Linked DNA regions of Homo sapiens. Changing the gene in region 1 together with any one later gene gives a genetic interaction. Each region holds a gene or a part of one and is shown in the gene's direction. Other genes may lie near its edges.

The links. Genes that interact genetically often act in the same process or in processes that back each other up.
Region 2: changes in ANKZF1 (region 1) and SNRPB together harm fitness less than expected from each alone (positive genetic interaction), as found in Homo sapiens cells (one large-scale study listed by BioGRID).

What each region holds. Positions count from the first base shown.
Region 1 is NC_000002.12:219,232,646-219,234,992, forward strand, and holds part of ANKZF1 (tRNA endonuclease ANKZF1), read left to right. Parts: coding exon 1-38; intron 39-433; coding exon 434-546; intron 547-640; coding exon 641-788; intron 789-1,069; coding exon 1,070-1,298; intron 1,299-1,487; coding exon 1,488-1,643; intron 1,644-2,180; coding exon 2,181-2,347. UniProt on the Homo sapiens protein: Endonuclease that cleaves polypeptidyl-tRNAs downstream of the ribosome-associated quality control (RQC) pathway to release incompletely synthesized polypeptides for degradation.
Region 2 is NC_000020.11:2,461,119-2,464,602, reverse strand, and holds the end of SNRPB (small nuclear ribonucleoprotein-associated proteins B and B'), read left to right. Parts: intron 1-703; coding exon 704-856; intron 857-1,375; coding exon 1,376-1,514; intron 1,515-1,555; exon of another isoform or gene 1,556-1,651; intron 1,652-1,841; coding exon 1,842-1,967; intron 1,968-2,663; coding exon 2,664-2,674; 3' UTR 2,675-2,809; coding exon of another isoform or gene 2,810-2,847; 3' UTR 2,848-2,961; downstream 2,962-3,484. UniProt on the Homo sapiens protein: Plays a role in pre-mRNA splicing as a core component of the spliceosomal U1, U2, U4 and U5 small nuclear ribonucleoproteins (snRNPs), the building blocks of the spliceosome.

The sequences.
Region 1 (2,347 bases):
TTCTTTATGCCTACCGCTGTGTCCTAGGCCCTCATCAGGCAAGTGACAGTACAGGTTGCATGGCTAACCCCAGCCTTTTGTACACCCAGCCTAGATTTCCCTTAGCCTAGTGCATTTCTCCCTGCTTCTCTTCCTTCCTGTTGGTTGTGGGTATCACGCTTGACAACATAGTCTTGAATTGAAACTGGCCTGAATTGTGGAAGGGTTAAGTGTAATGGAATTAAGTTTGGAAACAAACCAATTTAGGTTTGAATTGTGATTCTACCACTTCATCTTGACTGCCTCGCCAAGCCTCAAATTTCCTTGTTTGTCAAATGGAAACAAGCCTCAGGGTGGTAATATTAAATGAGATAATGTTTGTGAAAATTGGCCCTTAGTTTCTTGCTCTCAGTGAATGCAACAGATATGTTTCTGATGCTTCTCTGTCATCAAGGATCCCCCAGAAGAGGCAGAACTGCTGCTACAGAACCTGCAAAGTAGAGGTCCCAGAGACTGCGTGGTGCTCATGGCTGCAGCTGGGCACTTTGCTGGTGCTATATTTCAAGGGTGAGAGGGTGCTGCATGGGGGTAAGGATGGAGTGGATCCTGTTAGCCAGGGAGCACCAGCTGGTCTCCAGTACTGAGTCTGTGCTGTCTACAGAAGAGAAGTGGTGACACACAAAACTTTTCACCGCTATACGGTTCGGGCCAAGCGGGGCACAGCCCAGGGGCTTCGGGATGCCCGAGGTGGGCCATCACACTCTGCTGGAGCCAACCTGAGGCGCTACAATGAAGCCACACTATATAAGGTGAGTTAAGCCTTTTAGATCTGGTGGTACTGATCCATACTTTTTTTGCATCTCTGTTCAACTCACTGTTAAGTAGGGAGGTTTTTGACTCATATCCTTCCAATTTTCATTATAGGTAGACAAAGGTAGATGAGGGATTCCCCAGGAGCCTTAGTCCTCTATTCTTTCTCCGTGTTATCCTCTACTTTCCACCCCTTGCACTTCTGTGGGCCATTTTTTTTAGTTGGAGATTTATAAATAGCAAGTGAAGGTATGCAGGACTGAGTTACTCTCTTCTCTAGGATGTTCGTGACCTGCTGGCAGGGCCAAGCTGGGCTAAGGCGCTGGAGGAGGCTGGTACAATACTGTTGCGTGCTCCCCGCTCTGGCCGGTCTTTGTTCTTTGGAGGCAAGGGAGCACCCCTGCAAAGGGGGGATCCCCGACTTTGGGATATCCCCCTCGCCACCCGCAGACCCACCTTCCAAGAGCTACAGCGTGTGCTCCATAAGCTGACCACTTTGCATGTCTATGGTGAGCCTTTGCTCCAGATCCCAATTCCCTAGACCTTCCTGTTCTCTCCAACCTAAGCCTCCATTCTCATTGGTATATCCAGAGGATTTTCTAAGCCTTGGACTGCAGCCCAGCTACATCTGCATTGAGAGAAACCTGCGCTAGCTTCTCCTCAGCTAAGGTTGAGAAAGATCTTTTCTTTTATGGCAGAAGAAGACCCTCGGGAAGCAGTCAGACTGCACTCACCTCAGACACACTGGAAAACAGTAAGAGAGGAGAGAAAGAAGCCTACTGAGGAAGAAATAAGAAAGATCTGCAGGGATGAAAAGGAAGCGCTGGGGCAGAATGAGGAATCTCCCAAACAGGGTTTGATTACTATCTGGCAACTGTCAGATCTGAGTTTCTGTCCTAAAAATGCACTGGCAAATTCCCTACTCTCATAACTGACCCATTTCCTTATTTAAACACACACCCACAGTGTCTATCTTAGCAATTACTGAGACATGTTTAGTGACCTTTCCAAATCTATTATCTCTTTTGTTATGGATGTTTCCCCAGAGCTAAGAAAATCTTTGTGTGGAGCAGATGCGTGGATGTGTTGCATGGATCTCACATAGTTTATCTTTGATTGGATGCTGTGGTTTGAGGCTGAGGGCTGCTTCCATGCTTTCCTCTATTGTGCGGCACCCTAAGGCTACTCATACGGAGAGTCCAGGGACTTGTTCTTGTCTGGGCTGAGAGCCTCATTTCTGCATGTGATATAATGGACTCAGCTCTTGATGTGCTACTTTTATCTGGGTGACAAAATAAAAACAATTTCATTTCAGGCTTTCATTCTTATGCATCTGCTTCTACCCTCTGAGTACTCCCTAGATGGATTTCACATGTCAGGTTTTTCCCTAGGTTCAGGGTCGGAGGGAGAAGATGGCTTTCAGGTAGAGTTGGAGCTAGTGGAGTTGACTGTGGGGACTCTGGATCTTTGTGAGTCTGAAGTATTGCCCAAGCGGAGGAGGAGAAAAAGGAATAAGAAGGAGAAAAGCCGAGACCAGGAGGCTGGGGCACATCGGACT
Region 2 (3,484 bases), on another chromosome or scaffold:
ACTTAATGTTAACATTTTTCTAGTTGCTCAACACTTTTAAAGTCAAGTTAATGACTGAGATTTTCTCAAATGAGTACAGAGTAGTTTATCCTAATCATTTTCTTTTTTGGAGATTTTTACGTTTTTGCCTTTTCCAGTTAAAAATGTCTGCAAGGGATGTTAGCATATCTTGGTTCAAAGTCCATGTACATATTCAAATCTCTTAGTACCTACTTCCAGTAGAATTGGCTGGTCTAACATAACCCATCATAAACCTTTGTGATCACAACCAGTTGTACCATAACCATGTCATTTGCAGATAAGGCAACTCAGCCCGGGATTGTGGGATTATTTGTCCATTGTCACCTAGCGGATTAGAATCAGCTGGGAATGGATCTCATGTCCCTTTAATGCCTTGCCTGCTGAACCCTGAGTGGAACCCTGGCCCTTTGCTCTTGGTTTAACTTTCACAGGAGTGCATATAGGTGGTTGAGTTGTGGCATGTTTCTCTAGACTTACTCTTAAGTTCTACCCTGCTTCAGGGATAACTCATAGTCTTGGATGGAGGAAGAATGGTGTTGGCACACATGGAGAGGTAGTATTTATAAGCTATTTCGATAGTATTTATAAGCTATTTCGAGGGGCTCTCTTGGCAATGATATTCCAAAGTATACTTCTGATCTTCAGATCACTGGGCATCAGAGCATATTTGTTTATTTTTCAGACTGGTATTGCTCGAGTTCCACTTGCTGGAGCTGCCGGGGGCCCAGGGATCGGCAGGGCTGCTGGCAGAGGAATCCCAGCTGGGGTTCCCATGCCCCAGGCTCCTGCAGGACTTGCTGGGCCAGTCCGTGGGGTTGGCGGGCCATCCCAACAGGTGAGGAGTTGGGGAAAGGGTACCACCTCCTGGTGGCTAAAATAAAGGATAAAGGGGAGGGTCCATAGTTTTAAAAGGGTCCAGAGTGACCAACCTGTGATTGTCAGACTATCAGTGTTTCACTGTGGTTTATACATGGCCCTAGAAGCAAGTGAAAAGGATAAGTTGCCATTGTAAATTATGTTGATGCTATTAAAGAGATGTACGAATTAGCCAACTGTATTTAAGGAAAATATTTCCATGACAGCATTTGAAATCATGAGTCATATTTGAAAATGCAGTTGCCTTCTCTCACTTGGATTGGACATGCTTACATTCAGGTCTAGAAGATGGGAGTTGGGCATTCAAGCTTGATCTTTCCCGACATGTGGTTTTGGATGGGAAGTCTGGTGCTGAGAGTTGTAGCATTAAGGGATTTGGTGTCTGTTATTTCCCACTGTCCTTCCCCAAGTTGGGGAGGAGAGTGGGAAGCTGCATTGTACTGTACTCTTCTAACTCTTTCTTCTTATGTCCTCTTAGGTGATGACCCCACAAGGAAGAGGTACTGTTGCAGCCGCTGCAGCTGCTGCCACAGCCAGTATTGCCGGGGCTCCAACCCAGTACCCACCTGGCCGTGGGGGTCCTCCCCCACCTATGGGCCGAGGAGCACCCCCTCCAGGTGAGGAGCCCATAAGGAGACCAGTGCTAATTGATAGAAGATGCCTTAGCTGGATTAATGATGAGATATAACCTTGACTGAAGCTGATGATGAGTTTGTATAATTAAGCAGGATTACTCTGAGATCCAGCGTGGCTGACTGATGAGACTAGGTGGACAAGAGCCATTGGGAGCCCTGGGTGTTAGGCTCAAATGTCAGTTTTCTGGGAGCTGCTGAGAGGGTGGAATGGTCCATCTATCTCAGAACTTGGTGGAAAGCTTTGTAGTTTTTTTGCTACCTTTTCAAGATAGACACTTGAGCTATATTCTTGGGGCTTTTCTCTTGCAGGCATGATGGGCCCACCTCCTGGTATGAGACCTCCTATGGGTCCCCCAATGGGGATCCCCCCTGGAAGAGGGACTCCAATGGGCATGCCCCCTCCGGGAATGCGGCCTCCTCCCCCTGGGATGCGAGGTAAGTGCCTGCAGTGGTGACTTTGGCTTCTTTCCCTAGAGCCTAGTGGGATAGGAAATGGAGGGAAGATTGCATTTAGATCATATCCCATGGGCTTTCAAGCCTTAAATCTAGGGAAATCCAGAAAGGAAAGAGAAGAGGGAACATTTCTTAAATTGGGCTTACCTCCCCTCTTAGAAAAGTTAGAGCAGCCATGCACCCAGGGTGTTTCTCAATATCTAAGGCAGCGGCCTCAGGACACAATGAAATAATGCATTCTGAGGATCCCTAACAGAAGTTATGAGATTGTCTTATGCTCTTTGGTTTGACAGTGCCTAGTAATTAAGAGGGGGCTCTGGGCTTTGCTGTACTATTATGGATTTCTCTTTAACTTCAGTTGGAGAAATTCTGAGATCAGTCCCCACATGGATGAGAAAATAGGCCCCCAGGGAGTTTGGACTCCAAGCCCAGTGTTCTTTCCCTATAAGATAACCCATGGGCAAACTTGGTGACCCCTGTTTCTCTAGTCTGGATTATTCCTCTATGGGTTTTTATAGACATAGGAACCCAGTCAGCCTCAGAGTAGTCCCTAGTTAGCACATATGCCATGTATACCCCTCTCCTCACTCGATTACTGCAGGGCGTGGGAGGCTGGGGCAGGGTTGGGGATTCAAGTTGCAGATCAGGCACTGACTAAACTTCTTACTCTTACTTCAGGCCTTCTTTGACCCTTGGCCACAGAGTATGGAAGTAGCTCCGCAGAGGCGTGGGCTCGATTCCTCAGGGCCACGTTACCACAGACCTGTTTGTTTCTTATGCTGTTGTTCGTGGAGTCTCATGGGATTGTCTGGTTTCCCTTACAGGGCCCCCTCCCCCGGGAATGCGCCCACCAAGGCCCTAGACTCATCTTGGCCCTCCTCAGCTCCCTGCCTGTTTCCCGTAAGGCTGTACATAGTCCTTTTATCTCCTTGTGGCCTATGAAACTGGTTTATAATAAACTCTTAAGAGAACATTATAATTGCACCTATGGATCTTTATTTTTAGAAAAATCTTTGATATATTGGGTGCTTAATAGAGTCAAGAAGGGTTGCCTTGGAAAAAATTAACCCTGATCTTACCTTCTTCCCTATAAAATGTTTTACTACCCATTTGCATCTGTACATCCTCATACACTAAGATACTTACAAAATTGAACATTTTCACTTATCAGATTCAAAGATCAGTTTTGTTGAAATCAGTACCCATAATATCCTCTTGGGAAGGCACTTGTCTAGATAGCTTCTCCATGAAGCAAATGCTAAAAATGAAAATTCTGCTGGGAGAGGAACAATTTTGGCATAACTTTCTGCCAGGGTCACACACGTAACATATAACCTAACGTAACTTTTGAATTGTGGTATCTTCATGAGTTCTTCCACCCAAAGCCTGTGTTCACTGAGCAGCACTCTAGTACTTAGTGCATCAAGCTCTAAGGGTACAAAAATAAGGTGAACACTGTTGTAAAGTTACTGTGTAGGGGGAAGATAATTGTAAATGCA